Regions from separate parts of the Homo sapiens genome. Here region 2 is linked to region 1. The links come from fine-mapping of genetic effects on gene expression. A gene starts in region 1. The other region holds a variant in brackets. All regions are shown on one strand. Distances are from middle to middle. Region 1 holds the start of TMEM98 (transmembrane protein 98). Region 2 has its middle 29 kb from the start of SPACA3.

The links. PIP is the estimated chance that this variant, and not a neighbour inherited with it, causes the effect. A credible set is the group of variants that fine-mapping cannot tell apart.
Region 2: its variant is the best candidate, but not a certain one, in a credible set for the expression of TMEM98 in subcutaneous fat (TwinsUK, PIP 0.69).

The regions. Positions count from the first base shown.
Region 1 is chr17:32,923,756-32,932,090 of GRCh38, forward strand. TMEM98 (transmembrane protein 98) reads left to right here and starts at 4,398. Exons shown (of 8, transcript NM_015544.3): 1 at 4,398-4,482; 2 at 7,572-7,647; 3 at 7,720-7,904. The coding sequence starts at 7,774.
Region 2 is chr17:32,958,757-32,967,091 of GRCh38, forward strand. No RefSeq gene overlaps it. Among named protein-coding and RNA genes, the nearest start is that of SPACA3, 29 kb to the right of the region's middle. The variant A/ATTTT (reference allele first, on the strand shown) is at 3,069.

The DNA of each region.
Region 1 (8,335 bases):
GCCGAGATGGCAGCAGTACCGTCCAGCTTTGGCTCGGCATCAGAGGGAGACCGTGGAGGGAGAGGGAGGGGGAGGGGGAGGGGGAGGGGGAGAGACCAAATTTCTTTGTATAAAAGTGTTAACCCAAGTGGAACAAAAATTAGTTGAGTACCAAGAAAATACTTTGCCAGATTTGCATGCTAAATCAGCGGATACTAAAATTGTTTAGATATACAATTTGAATGAACTCCATGGTCTAAGTCAAATTACCTATGATAACCCATCAGTTGTCAGTGCTATACAGCTAAACTGGAGAAACAACTGGTATTCAAGATGACGTAAGTCCGATGTTAAGCATGGACTCATGGAGAACCAGGACAGCAGCCTTGCCCTTCCTGAGTCCTTAAAGCTTTTGTTATTCAAGGTTATGCACTCCATGACTCATCATGGAAAAGATAAAATAATCCAAATTAAATATATATTGGTGTGCTGACTTATACATTGCTAAAGTAGTTTATAACCAATGTTTGGTTTGTCAAATCCATATTCCTGGGAAGACAATCAAATCTTCAAGTACATTTGGCTACCTCATGGGCCATTTAAACATTTCAATTGCCATTTTCAATGCATGTTTCTGGTTGTAAAAAAGCTTTCCTATGCAAGAGGGCTGATGTTATAACAGTAGATTATTATGCTACAGTGTATTTTCACCAGGTAAAGAAAGCTTTTTATGGGTCACTGAGGACAATCAACCCCTTCACAATCTAGAACCCAAAGATTGGGTCTTCTGAGAATATCTACTGTAAAGGCTATAGTTACACAACAGATTTTAAATTCTTTTGTGAAGGTTACGATAGAATCGGCTGAACAGAGAAGTATCTGTGCAGCTGCTGGCACTTGTGGCTTATGGAGAAATACATCAAATGAAGATTATAGAGATTTAGTTGTAGGGGATTAACGAAGAGATTTCTTAGTTAAGTGAGTAGATTCTTTAGCACATTCTTTGATTTAATTTTAGGTGGTTTGGTTTATGGGGATCCTTGGTATGAAGTATGCTCCAAACTCTTAGTATTATCCTCCCAGTAGTCATAATAATAGTCTCCCTGGTGCGCTGTATTATCTCAAAGGCTTTAAATGCTTGCATTCAGCCATCTCTAGAATGTCAAATGGTCTCTTTTCAAGTGGAATGACAAGAGCTGAAAGAAGTGCATGACCAGGAGGATACCATAACCTATGAATGATGTGGTGAGACTGGAAACCCAAAATGATGGCAAGTGAGTGTGGTGCTAAGGCCTTAAATTTTGGTCACACTCTCACCCAAGTGAGAACCTGACCAAAAAGGGAGAATTTTTTTAACAAAATTATGAGAGGCCAGTGTTTTGGACTGACATCATGTGCTAGGCCCCAGCAAACCAAACAAACCAAAACACATAGATCCTAAAACAGACCAGGTTTTGTTTTTCTCCTGCAAACAGGATGTTCCACCATAAGGAGGTACCCTCTACTCAGTCCTTGTTCCCACTGTACAAAACTCACTGTTGTTTTACTGTTTCCCAGTGGGTTTCAAGACCAAATAAGTTCATTTATGATGGTGGTAGTGACATGAATGACTAAAGGTTTGGTCAATCTCTCAAAATTGAGAAAATGACCAAAAGGGGGAAATTGTTAAAGCAAATTAAATATAGCCTGAGAAGGACTCCGTATTTCTATATTGGAGTCTCTGTGGATGAACGGTAACCTAACTTAGGAATATGTGCCTGTAAAAATAGCTGAGTCTTGGCCAATCCCAGCAACCCCAAATCAGGCCAGGAGATAAGGTACTTAATAAAACGTGGAAGTGCTCTGGATAATAGTGGCCATTTTTTTATTGCCTTCTTCCAAACTTATGGAATCACTTCCTTTGTAGTAATTAGCAGAATGTTTCAATTCATCTCCATAATGAACATTCCTGACAGCATAAGTATCCACCCCCTGAAGTTCCTGTTAAATCTTTTAACCATATTCATTTCCTTTCACATAGAGACCATCAAGCTTCAGATGATCATGTGACAAAGTTTCCAGTCAGTTCCAAGTGAAGACACCACCCCTGGCCATCAGGATGCCACACTGTCTCCACTAGACAGAGTAGGGCAAGAGTTCCATGATCTCCAGTAGGTAGGAACTACGCCCCAAGTTGGCATAAAGCAGTTACAGTTCCTCTGCATCCCATAAAGATTTATGGGGGTCATGTCTCTCAGGAGAGAGATGAGGCAGGAGAATAGGGTCTGGAGGCAGGAAACCTAAGGGTTCACCTGACTTCCTAGAACTAAATCAAAAGGAAAACCCCAACTTTCCGCACCTAAGTAACAAACGGACCAGAGACTACTCCCTTTGCAACCCCCACTCCCCACTTTCTGCTTGGCAGATGGAAAATCTTTTGAAAGTACCTCTGATTGCCTTTCCGCAACCAATCCTGCGTTTGCATAGAAGTGTAACTTTGTAACTTCACTTCAGCCTCTGATTGGTTGTGGAAAGCAACCAGTCAGACTGATTGCGGCCAAATATTCTTTTGCATAGGAGTGTAACTTTGTAACTTCACTTTAGCCTCTGATTGGTTGTGGAAAGTAACCGATCAGACTGATTGCGGGCCAAATCTTCTTTTGCATAGGAGTGCAACCTTTGTAACTTCACTTCAGCCTCTGATTGGTTGCTTTCCACAACCAATCAGACTAATTGTGGCACCACTTCATTTACATGGGGTGAACGCCAAGTGGCCAATGGGAAACCTCTAGGAGGTATTTGGACCCCAGAAGATTCTACAGCAGGGGCTCTTGAGCCCATATGCAGGGGCCTGCTCCCACCTTGTGGAATGCACTTTTGTTTTCAATAAATCTCTGCTTTTGTTGCTTCATTCTTTCTTTACTTGCTTTGCTTGTGCCTTTTGTCTAATTCTTTGTTCAAAATGACAAGAACAGGCCGGGTGCGGTGGCTCATGCCTATAATCCCAGCACTTTGGGAAGCTGAGGTGGGTGGATCACCTGAGGTCAGGAGTTCCAGACCAGCCCGGCCAACGTGGCGAAACCCCGTCTCTACTAAAAATAACAAAAAAAATTAGTGGGACGTGGTGGCGCACACCTGTAATCCCAGCTACTTGGGGGGCTGAGGCAGGAGAATCGCTTGAACCCAGGAGGCAGAGGTTGCAGTGAGCTGAGATCGTGCCATTGCACTCCAGCCTGGGCAACAGAGCCAGACTCTGTTTCAAAAAATAAATAAATAAATAAATAAATAAATAAATAAAGGCAAGAACCTGGACACCCTCCACCCGTAAACAGCCAAGACTGTGCCACAGCACTCCAGCCTGGGCGACTGACTGAGACTCTGTCTCAAAAAAATTAAAATAAAACAACAAAAGTATGAACCAAAAAAACCACCTCTGTGGGCTGGATGTGGCCTTGGGGGTACCAGTTTGCAGACCCTGTGTCAAGCGGCCTAGGACCCAATCTGTATCCTTTGTTAACTGTCACCGATACTGACCTCAGACCTGGACCACTGGGATCCTGCCCTGAACCCCGTGCTTTAGTTGGCCCACTCCAGCTGGAGCGTATGTTCCCTTCTAGATCATGCTCCTGGTACCCTGGACTCCGGAAATCCCTGTGTAAACAGCCCTGAGCCTGCTTCCAAGGTCTGACTTCCATCCACCCAGGGCAGCCTGCCCTGCCTGGCCTGAGTATCGTTAGAATGAAGGATGGCAGGGTAGGGGGTGTGTGTTTGCCTGAACCAGTAGACCCCCTTCAGTATGTATGGGATGGAGTCGTGTGGGAATAGAAGCAGCAAGACTACTAGCAAGGGCTCTGCATTTGTACTCTTGCCCCTGGCTAGGCAGTCGCCAGGGGTGGGCCTGCTTCTCACTGACCCGTGGGTCAGGCTGTAAATAAGAGCGACCCTCGATTCACTCTTTACCCTGGGCCAGGCAGTCCGATGCATCCTGCATCCCATCATTCCTAATACCAACTCTGAGGATGCTGACAAGCAGCAGCCCCGTTTTACAGACCGAGGCACAAAGGCTGAACTAAGTTGTCCATAGCTAGTGAGTGGCAGAGGCAGGGTTTCAATGGGACAGTCCGTGGCGGAGCACACTGGCTCCGCCGCCAGCCCCCCTGCGGTACCCATCCGCGCTCGCCGCCTGGGACCGCCAGCCCGGGGCGGGGCGCAGGCAGGGACCCTCCGCTCCCCTCTCCGTCTGCCGCCCGGACGGGCCACCGCGGGGGCGCGAGGAAGGGGTGTTGGGTCGCCAGGGCCCGCCTCCCAGCTGCCCCGGCCGCCGGGGGGCCTGGCGGTGACGGCGGCGCCTGGCGGCGGGGATTTGGCGCGGGCCGGGGGCCGGGGGCCGGGGCGCGGGGGCGCGAGGCTGGATTCCTAGGGCCGCGGCGCTTCCCGGCATGCTCCGCTGCAGGCCCGCGCCCGCGCCCGGACTTTGCCATCGGCGGGGCAGTCGCGGGATGCGCCCGGGAGCCACAGCCTGAGGTGGGTGAGCCCCGCCGGGCCGGGCGGGCCGCGGCGAGTCGGGGAAGGGGACGCGGGGGCGCGGGGCCTGGCCCGGCTGCCGGGGAGAGGGGAGGCGGGTGCCGCAGCTTTGTTCTTGCCGCGGGGCCGCGCGCCCGAAGTTGGGGAAAGGAGTAGGAGCCGCGCCCCGGAGCGCTCCGGGGCCCGTGCGGCGCGTCCCGGGCGGGCTGGGGGTCCCTCCCTCCCGGGGACAGAGTGGGCGTCCTGGGTGGACGAGCACGGGGAAGCGGGTAGGGTCTTGGGTCTGTTCTGTCCTTGTGGTTCTGGAACCGGAGGGGAAGGGGGAAAGTAAGGGAGAGAGAAAGAGACGGAGAAAAACAGGAAAACTTACTCTTCAGTACGCAGGGAAGAATAGAGAAAGAAAAACACAAAGAAACGCCACGCAGACTGCAGAGAAGGACCACGAACACACGCTCCGAGAAACACACTCAGCTCACACGCACTGAGAAGCACACTTAAGATAAACACTCAGGTCACACACACAAGCACACTAAGAAACATTCAGTTCACACACACTCAGAAACACACGCACTCAGAAGCACACAAGATAAACACTCAGCTCACACACAGAAGCACACTCAGAAACATTCAGTTCACACACACTCAGAAACACACGCACTCAGAGGCACACAAGATAAACACTCAGCTCACACACAGAAGCACACTCAAACATTCAGTTCACACACACTCAGAAACACACTCCGAGAAACAGTTCACACTCGCTCAGAAGCACACTCAGCTCACACACACAAGCACACTCGGAGAAACATTCAGCTCACACACACTCAGAAACATACTCTGAGAAACACAATCAGCTCACACCCACTCAAGCACACTCAAGATAAACAGCTCACACAAGCACATTCAGAAAACACTCAGAAACATAGCTAACACTCAGAAACACACTCTGAGAAACACAGCTCACACACTCAGAAGCACACTCTGAGAAACAGCTCACACACACAGAAACAGAAAAACAGCTCACGCACACTAACACAAACACACACGGAGAAACACACTTAGAAGCACACTCAGCTCACACACACCCAGAGAAACACGATCAGAGAAACACTCAGAACGCACAGGAAGAGAGAGGAAACCAAGTGGGTGGTCTTGGAGGCCTGGGGACCGGGGGAGGGGAAGGAGAGACACTGAGAAGCGGGAGACGGGAGCAGCAGAGGGAAAGATGCCTGGAAAGAGAAACAGAGATAAAGGCAGACATAAGAGGAGGCAGAAAACACAAAGGCCAAAAGGAGGTGGTTAAAAGGACAGTAAAGAGAAACACACACGTAGAGAAACAGAGGCGGACCCTGAGAATTACCCCCCTCCCCCACCTACCTCTCACAAAATCAGCGACACACACAGAAGAGGCAGATGCCAGCCTTCTCCTTCTTGTGGTCCAGTGAGCTCGAGATGGGAGAGCAGCTCTGTGAGCCCTTTGAGAAAGGCTTCCTTGGCACTTTAAGCCAGGCATGTCCCAACCTTGTCTACCTGGCAAACTCCTGCTCATCCTTCAAAACCCAGCTCTAGCCTCACCACTCCTGTGAAAGTGTCAGTTCCCAGAAAGTGTCATGCAAGCACAGTTACTCTCTTTTCTGTGTTCTTCTGCAGGAAGCACAGGCACATGGAGTTGAAGTGGTTTGTCACCTGTCTGCCTCTCCCACCAACTCCTTAAGATCAGGGTCTCTGTCCTATCTATCTCCAATCTCCAGTGCATGATGCATAGTAGATGATCAATAAATACTTAGTGAATGGTGACCGAGAGCGTTTGGACCCTCCGAGACATGGAGGATAGAATTAAGTGCAAATAGAGGAAAAGCACCCTCCTGGTATTCTAAGGACTCCTAAGTCAGAGTGTCTTTTTTTCACGTGGGGAAATTAAAGCCCAGAGAGGGGAGAATGCTTGCACAAAGAGAGACAAGCAGGAGGCCTACAATGAAATAACAGTGAATATGTACTTCTGTGAGATGCCCTTGTTCTTCTGGCTTATGAGTTTAAAATAGGTGTGAAAGACCCCGTTCTTCAGTTCCTCTCTCCAGAGGCAGCTACTGTTATCAAGTTACATTTTATGTGTGTTTGTGCCTATCGATGTGTTCATACTAAAAAAATTCTGTGCACTAGTATATACAAATGCACGGACTTCTTTCATTCTTCTTTTGTACACAAATAAAAGAATTCTATGAGAAAAAGAAATAGATGTGAAACAGTCTCCTGAGTGAAAACTGGCAAGAGGCAATGGACACTTTAATGCCAGTTCTAAGTTTCCAACACTGAAACTGGCAATTAGAACTCTTTCCAGAACCTTTACAGTCTTCTTTCTTCCTTAGAAAGGAAAAGTAGAGTGAATGTCCATCTCAGTGTAAGTGGATGGCTTTCCATCTCCTGACTGCATATTGGAAAAATTCTGTAACCTCCCTGAACCTCAGTTTCCTCAACTGTAAAATGGGATTACTAATATGTCCACTTCATAAGATTGTTGTTGGAAAAGTTAACAAAGAACCTGGTGCAGAGTAGATCCTCAGTAAATACAGTTTCATCTTTCCTCTCTTTAATGGGTGTTCTTTTGTGCATGTTTTTATGGCTGCGAAAACAACTGCTAGTTAAAATGTTTCCTTTTGTCTAGGGTTTAAAAAGCTATTTTAAGGCCGGGCTCGGTGTCTCACGCGTGTAATCCCAGCACTTTGGGAGGCCCGAGGTGGGTGCATTACTTGAGGTCAGGAGTTCAAGACCAGCCTGGCCAACATGGTGAAACCCCGTCTCTACTAAAAATACAAAAAATTAGCCGGGTGTGGTGTCAGGCACCTGTAATCCTAGCTACTTGGGAGGCTGAGGCAGGAGAATCGCTTGAACCCAGGAGGCAGAGGTTGCAGTGAGCTGAGATCGTGCCATTGCACTCCAGCCTGGGTGACAGAGCTAGACTCCATCTTAAAAAAACAAACAAACACAAACAAACAAACAAAAAATTTTAGTCCAACTGGGGAGCAAATTCTTCTGAGAAAGGAAAAGGCAAATTTGGGGCATGGCATAAATTTTACCTTGGTTCTCTTCAGGCCCTCAGGTCTCTGCAGGTGTCGTGGAGGAACCTAGCACCTGCCATCCTCTTCCCCAATTTGCCACTTCCAGCAGGTAAGACCCACCTGTCCCACTCTCTTTCGTGGCTTCTTGACCAGATCTGCTCTGACTTCATGTTCTCTCAAGCTTTAGCCCATGAGGAGGATGTGACCGGGACTGAGTCAGGAGCCCTCTGGAAGCATGGAGACTGTGGTGATTGTTGCCATAGGTGTGCTGGCCACCATCTTTCTGGCTTCGTTTGCAGCCTTGGTGCTGGTTTGCAGGCAGCGCTACTGCCGGCCGCGAGACCTGCTGCAGCGCTATGATTCTAAGTGAGTGAGCCTATGGAGGGCAAGGAGGAGGGGTGGGCTCTAACTAAAGAAAAAGAGAGGAACACGTAGTTCAGTGTTGGGCAACTCTAACTCAGCTTTTTGGTTCTAAAATGGTACCTGCAGGTGTCCTTCCCTGTAAAGACCTCAGAGTTTAAGAATGTTCCTTAAGCCTCCCAACATCCTGAGTCACCTCCTTCTCTGCTTCCTGAGCCAAGAAGAAAGTCACTGAATATGAACATGTTCACCTAGCATAAAAGCTCAGCCATCTGTCTCAAACTGGCCACCTCACTTAGCATTTGGATAAGCCAAATCACTTTCCAGCCAGACCCACAGGAACAGAAATCAGATGCCCACACTCTGGCCATACATCTAAGCAACAAACATTTGGTTTTGTGAAATCCCAACTTAGGACTGTTTCTCTCTTTGCACAG
Region 2 (8,335 bases), 35 kb after region 1:
TAAAATTGCTCTCCAAAGCAATAGAACTAAGTACTGTAGTGCTTGAGTTTTTTGTAAACTTCTTTCTTTCCTTTTTGGACAGATTCTTTGTTTAAATAAAGGTGCTGGAAGGGCCCTTAAAAGGCATTGTGTAGTCAGTTAATGTTGCTGCATACAGACAACTTTGAAATTTGAATGGTGGCAGAGTGTGGTGGCTCACACCTGTAATCCCAGCACTTTGGGAGACCAGGTGGACCGATTGCTTGAGCTCAGGAGTTCGAGACCAGCCTGGGCAACACGGCAAGATGTGATCTCTACAAAAAAATGCAAAAATTAGCTGGGTGTGGTGGCATGCACCTAGAATTCCACTACTTGGGAGGCTGAGGTGGGAGGATCACTTGAGCCAGGAGGTGGAGGTTGCAGTGAGCTGTGATTGCACCGCTGCACTGCACAGTCTGGGCGACAGGGCAAGATGGAACAAAAAAGAAGAAGAAAGAAAAAAAGAAATTTGAATGTTTTACAACAAGCGTTTATTTTGGGCTTATTGACCTGTGCATTGGTAGGGTTTGGCTGATGTGTAACGGGCTCAACTCAGCCTGACTCCAAGCAGTGGGTTGGGCTCAGGTTTGCTCCACATGCCTCTCATCCTCCTTGGACTTGTAGCTGAGGCAAATTTTTCTCATGGGAAAAGGCAAGAACTCGAGTGTAGGCCCACACAAACACTTTTCACGTCTTTGCTAGTGTTGTGCAACCATCCTGTTGGTCAAAGAATAGGTAGGCCCAAAGTCAAGAGCTCAGGAAATACACTCTGTCCATCGTGAAGCCATGGTATGAATGTGGATGTATAATTCCACTATAGGGGAAGGAAGATCTGGGGTCAATAACTGAATCTGCCACAGATATCAACGTTTTTTAGTTTCAGGATCTTCCTTCCTTCCTTCGTTCCTTCCTTCATTCCTCCTTCGTTCCTTCCTTCCTTCCTTCCTTCCCTCTCTTTCTTTCTTTCTTTCTTTCTCTTTCTTCTCCCTGTTTTTCTAATATCTTTTTTTTTTTTTTTGAGATAGGGTCTTGCTCTGTCACCCAGGCTGGAGTGCAGTGGCTGATCATGGCTCACTGCTGTCTCGGCCTTCCAAGTTCAATTGGTTCTCTCGCCTCAGCCTCTCAAGTAGCTGGCATCACAGGTACATGCCACCATACCCAGCTATTTTTTTTTTTTTAAGTAGAGACAGGGTCTCACTGTATTGCCCAGGCTGGTCTCAAACTCCTGGGCTCAAGGGATCTGTCCACCTCGGCCTCCCAAAAAGCTGGGATTACAGGCATGAGCCATTGTGCCCAGCTCTCTCTCTCTCTCTCTCTTTCTCTCTCTCTCTTTCTCTCTCTCTCTCTATTTCTCCTTCTTTCTTGGAGACAGGGTCTCTCTCTGTTGGCCAGGATGAAGTGCAGTGGTGTGATCATAGCTCACTGCACCCTTGAACTCCTGGGCTCAAGCGATCCTTCTGCCTCAGTGTCCTGATAGCTGAGAGTATAGGTATGCACCACCATGCTTGGCTAATTAAAAAAAAAAAATTTATAGAGACAGGGGGTCTCACTATTTTTGCCCAGGCTAGTTCAAAACATTTTCTTGAAACAAAACCTTATGTAGAATTGTAATGTAATATGGAGAAAAGTGAAGCTGCTCTGATTTGAAGTGGGAGTGGGGGTGTGCAGAACCCCTGCCTGCTCAACTCCCCTCTGTTCCCGAACACCTCTGCGGAGTCCCCCAGCTTCACAGAATGTAGTTTGATAGCCAGTCTCTTACATTGTTTCCTCTTCCAGGCAACGTCAACACTCTCCCCGCTGCAAGATCCAGGGATCTGCAGCAACACAACCAGGAGCAGATCCTCTCTGAGGGTTGAGTCTCAACATGTGGCCCAAAGGGGCGCCTCCTAGAAGCCAAGAGTAAAGAGGACGCCTGAGGCCACACCTGAATGTGGGCAAAGTAGATGACAAGATTAGAAACAGACCTGGTTTGCTCCGTGGCTCAGCCCAAGCTGGCTGGATTGACAGAACTTCAGCTCCTTGCCTGCCTCCAACTCAGGGAAGGAGATCCTTGTCCTGTGGAACATCTGGCTCTCATGTCATGAGTCTTCTGTCAGAGTGATGGTGGCTTCTTATCATTATTGACTTTCACCATGGTCTTAGCAGCACCTTTTGGGCAGGCAGTCTGGTTGCTGTTTCCAGAACGGAGCCACAGGCCAGCCCCATCCCATGTGGCCTCTGTAATGCTTTCCTCTTCCATAGGCAGTGTGAGAAGCCCATCCACCAGAGTTACAGTGGGGAGGTGATGAGTCAGACCACATCCTATTGTGAGCTTGCAAGGCTGCTTTCATTAGGTGTTAGTTCCCTGTGGCTGGCTGGACCAGGAAGCAAGGTCCAGCCCCCTCTTCTCCTCTCCATGCCCCAGTAGGCTCCCCTGCTCTCTCCAACCCTCCCGCAACAGCCAGTCTTCCCCTCCCAGGCGCTGCTCCTGGAGCTCAATCAGCAACTCCATCTCCAAGCTTTATGTTTCCCATTAGATTTCTCCTAATTTTCTTGTCCTTTACAACCTGACAGTATCTGTACTTTTGTTCTTATGATCTAATTACAATTAGTGATTTAATGAGACTACCCTCGGAAGCTGCAAGAAAGGCAGTGATGGGCAGGATGGTGGAGACGGGAAAGTAAGCAGACACTTGGTGTCTATAGGGGATTTGTCTTGCATTTATTAATTCTACAAATGTTTATTAAGCATCTATTATATGCCAGCATCCAGGCTAGGCAATGAGAAGATAGTGACAAACAAGAACATCGAGCCAGTTATCTGTTTCTCCCCCTCCCCACTTGCTGGTGAGGTCTTGCCGCATCTGGACATGTTTTCCGTAACTGACTTCCATTTATTTGGCTGCTGAGCTCTGGCTGGCTGCTTAGACATTCTGCTGCTGTGCACTCATCCCAGCCAGAGCAGCTTTACAGACATTTACTGCTTGTACCCTTGAGTTTGCTTCACTTTTTGAACTAAGCACCTTGAACCTTCACAGCTGCCTTCTGCAGGGGCCCAGCCCTGGAACTGA[A/ATTTT]TTTTTTTTTTTTTTGAGATGTTATCTTGCTCTGTCACCCAGGCTGGAATGTAGTGGTGCTATCTCGGCTCACTGCAACCTCCACCTTCTGGGTTCAAGTGATTCTCATGCCTCAGCCTCCTGAGTAGCTGGGACTACAGGCACCCGCCACCATGCCTGGCTAATTTTTGTATTTTCAGCAGAGATGGGGTTTCACCATGTTGGCCAGGCTGGTCTCAAACTTCTGACTTCAAGTGATCCACCCACCTCGGCCTCCCAAATTGCTGGGATTACAGGCGTGAGCCACTGAGTCCAGACTGGAGCTGAAATTTTGCCCCCTACTCAACTCTATCCTGAGCTCTGGCCTGGCTTGTTCTCACCTCCCTGTCTTAGACTCTAGAGAAGTGGGCACTGTTTAAGGCCAACCATTGACTTCTGATAATATAATTAGATAAAGGCTTCTGGACTAACTCCATTGCCTTTGTATACATTGGTTTCCTCTGATAAGAAAACTGGGTAGTAACTAAAGCCACATTCTCTGGAGAGATGAAAGATTAACCAAGAGAAGACTAAGCTTCCACTGTTTATTTAGAACGTTTAAGGAACCAGAAGTGGGTAGCTGCTGCTTGACTCTCTTTATCATGTGGGTGCCTCTGTCTCCTTCTGTCTTCTTGTCTGTAAGTGTCTCTTGTCAAGCCTGATTGTCCCAATACTCCCAGCAACTTTGGAATTCAGGGGTCTGCCTTACAGCCTCATGAGCTCTGTGTATGTTTGCAGGACTCTATTTTAAGCACTATCAGAGTTTGGAGCTCAGTTTCAGCCCTCTGTGTGGGAGTGCCTTAGCGAGATACTGGCAATCCGGATTTCAGATTCTGTGAAATAGCTTACTTCAGATCATTCCTCCAGGGTTGCATCTCCTTGGATTTTGAATGATTGGTTTCAGACTTTTAGCCTCAGGACTTGGCATTTCAGAATGTTAGGTCTCTTCATAGCTTAACTAATCTACATTCTTGTTGACCTTTAATCAATAAGAGATGGTCTTGGCTTAACCATGGGACAGATTCTGTTTTACAAGATTTCTTTCTTTATAGAGGCTCAGGGGTAGGATGATGCCTTTCCCACTTCAAACAGTCATTTTAACCTCTTTTGATGGGTATATTCTTGGGAGTGCAGTATGTTCTTGGGATGAAGGAAGGAGATGCTGGAAAAACACAACTTTATATCCCCATCCTTCAGAGTATAACAGATCTTTATCTTGATCAAATGTCCAATGTCAACTTTTTTACATGTAAAATGGGATGCGTGTGTGTGTGTGTGTGTGTATGGAGGGAGGGTAGCAGAGACTACTAAACATCTTTCTCATGGAACCGTGATGGGGTTTGACAATGTTGTGTGATTTTTCATGGAAATCTTAAACAAGAATACAGTTGTGCCTAGGCAGGCAATACACTAATACACTGACTGGGACCCATCTGTAGCTCTTAGAACACAACAATAGCTAATATTATTAAGCACTTACTAAATACTTTATCTTACTTGAAATTCACAGCCTCCTAATAATAATTTGAATTATTACCATCCCTACTGACAATTAGGTCACTCAATAACAAATGGCAAAGGAAGGGTTTGAGCTCAGCTCAGACTTGGCATCAAGGCTCTGTAATCTTCCACTTTGTAGTGACTGGAGCTGTTGAAATGATTATTCCAGTGTAATCTTTTTTTTTTTTTGGACAGAAATATTTCTATTAAGGATGGGTCAGAGGCCTAAAAGCAGGTCTGTCTATCTCCCTGCCCAAGTTCTTTCCACTTCACTAGGCTGCCTGTGAAGCCTGAGATCCATCACCGCCTCTTGGAAAGTTGTGACATCATGTAATTCTCTTGGCTTGAAGGCCACTCTGTCCCACTGGCTGTTGAATGAAGATGCTTGTCAGTGAATTACAATTTTCTTTAACATTTTTTCCATGCTAACCCATTATGATGGTTTTTTAAGGAAGACAAATGTTGATTAAGCATGTACTATGTGTAAGGCAATTTCACACACATTATTCCCTTTTTCTCCTCATGCCAATATAGGAATGGTGCAGTAGGAATAATTATTCCCATTTTACAGTTGAAGAAATGGAGGTGACAATACACCCATTTTAGCTTATGGAGACTCAAAATACCATATACAAAATCAGCAGGTGGGTGAGTAGGGGGCACAGCTAGAGGATGATGGCATTAGGAGGGGCCACATGGATCATCAATGTGAGAAAACATTTTAAATGATCCATTTTCAAGGCATGATAAATCTAAGTACTGGCAGCCAGGCTGCAAACGTAACAAACCACATGTCTCATGCACCTAGAAGGTCACCATAAGTGAATAGAATGTAGAAGAGGGGTCAGCCCATAAAAGGGAAGAAAGTTTTGTTATTGGGAAATTGAAACTTAAGCAGGGGAGGAGACCAGGGCATAACCTTAGAAGGGAGATAATGAAACTTAGGCGATGTCTAGGAAGATTGTAACCCCATAGTACTCAACCAATGAGGAACTGGGGGGAGGATTTGTGTGCTAGGAGATAAATTACCTGTTGTAACTGCCCTGGGTGTGCCTGCCTACCAGACACCTGATCTTGCAAGTCCACCATTAAAAGTCTCGCTTCCGCTGTTCTTCGTGTCTCTGAGTCCATTCTTCGGGTTTGGATGGGTGAATGTATGTTTCTCACAAACCTGGAGGCCCATCTGGGATCTCTGTGCCTGCGTGGAGTAAGACTCTGGGTGAGAGGGGAGATGTGTCCCACCTGATTTAGGTGGCCTGCTCTGTCCGGGCGCCCCGGCTCCCTGCAGAAGCCATAGACAAACTCGAGACTGTTACTCAGGAGGCAGTGGAGGTGACAGAGGGAGAAAAGCAGGCACTGTGGCAACCAGGCAAACTTGTGCATGAGCCAAGGTAGAAAATTGGACTATAAGTACTGCCTTGGTGGTTGGGCATTTTCGGAGGTCAAGTGTGTGTGACTGAGAGGTATCTTAGATACGAAGCGAGTGCAGAGTCCCAATCCGCAGTTCCATTCTCCTGCAAGGGAAATGGCCGGAGATGGATGAAGTGATTTTCGGGGTGTGCAAGAAACCTCCAATAGAGGGGGGTTATGTACACAAGGAAACTCAGACACAGAGACTGACCAAAAATGGGAAACAGAAATTCTAGGCCAAGGGGACAAAGGAAAGAGGGAATCAAAGACTCTCTCTGACATTCCCTGGATAGTCTTTTGGGGAGAGTGCTGCAGGTTTGGAGGGACAACTCTCGAACCAGGGACAAGGAAAAGCAAAAGATGAAAAAGTATTGCTGTTTTATCTGTCCCAAGGACCCCATTTGTAAGCCTTCAGTCTTTTGGCCTAACTTTGGATCAGACGAGGACTGGGTTTGCCAAGTTTTAATTCTCTATGTGAATGATAAAACCCCATACTGACGAGAAGAGATAGGTTACACTCTCTGATGGATCATGGAATTAGCCCCCATGTTCCCCCTCAAAGAAGAGAAAGAGCCTAGTAAAAAGTCCTCACCCAGGGAAAAGCCCTGGGACCCCCTACCATGCTTGCCCCTTCCATACGTCTCAAAAAATAGGGGACAGGAAGATCAAGGGGCAGGAGGAAGGTTAGAGGAAGAAAGACCTGGAGACCATGGGGGAGCTGAACCAACCTCTCCTTTAAATCTTTATCCAAATTTAAGTAAAGAATTAGAACAGTGTAAGAGGCTATGTGTGTCTCTGCATGTGAGATGGGTCTCCTGAATACAGCACACTGATGGGTCTTGACTCTTTATCCAATTTGCCAGTCTGTGTCTCTTAATTGGAGCATTTAGCCCAATTACATTTAAGGTTAATATTGTTATGTGTGAATTTGATCCTGTCGTTATGATGTTAGCTGGTTATTTCGCTCATTAGTTGATGCAGTTTCTTCCTAGCATCCATGGTCTTTACAATTTGGCATGTTTTTGCAGTGGCTGGTACTGGTTGTTCCTTTCCATGTTTAGTGCTTCCTTCAGGAGCTCTTGTAAGGTAGGCCTGGTGGTGACAAAATCTCTCATAGGCTCAAAATAAAGGGTTGGAGGAAGATCTACCAAGCAAATGGAAAACAAACAAAAAAAAAAGAAGCAGGGGTTGCAATCCTAGTCTCTGATAAAACAGGCTTTAAACCAACAAAGATCAAAAGAGACAAAGAAGGCCATTACATAATGGTAAAGGGATCAATTCAACAAGAAGAGCTAACTATCCTAAATATATATGCACCCAATACAGGAGCACCCAGATTCATAAAGCAAGTCCTTAGAGACTTACAAAGAGACTTAGACTCCCACACAATAATAATGGGAGACTTTAACACCCCACTGTCAACATTAGACAGATCAATGAGACAGAACGTTAACAAGGATATCCAGGAATTGAACTCAGCTCTGCACCAAGTGGACTTAATAGACATCTACAGAACTCTCCACCCCAAATCAGCAGAATATACATTCTTCTCAGCACCATCTCGCACTTATTCCAAAATTGACCACATAGTTGGAAGTAAAGCACTCCTCAGCAAATGTAAAAGAACAGAAATTATAACAAACTGTCTCTCAGAACACAGTGCAATCAAACTAGAACTCAGGATTAAGAAACTCACTCAAAACCACTCAACTACATGGAAACTGAACAACCTGCTCCTGAATGACTACTGGGTACATAACGAAATGACGGCAGAAATAAAGATGTTCTTTGAAACCAATGACAACAAAGACACAACATACCAGAATCTCTGGGACACATTTAAAGCAGTGTGTAGAGGGAAATTTATTGCACTAAATGCCCACAAGAGAAAGCAGGAAAGATCTAAAATTGATACCCTAACATCACAATTAAAAGAACTAGAGAAGCAAGAGCAAACACATTCAAAAGCTAGCAGAAGGCAAGAAATAACTAAGATCAGAGCAGAACTGAAGGAGATAGAGACACAAAAAACCTTTCAAAAAATCAATGAATCCAGGAGCTGGTTTTTTGAAAAGATCAACAAAATTGATAGACTGCTAGCAAGACTAATAAAGAAGAAAAGAGAGAAGAATCAAATAGACACAGTAAAAAAATGATAAAGGGGATATCACCACTGATCCCGCAGAAATACAAACTACCATCAGAGAATACTATAAACACCTCTATGCAAATAAACTTGAAAATCTAGAAGAAATGGATAAATTCCTCGACACATATACCCTCCCAAGACTAAACCAGGAAGAAGTTGAATCCCTGAATAGACCAATAACAGGCTCTGA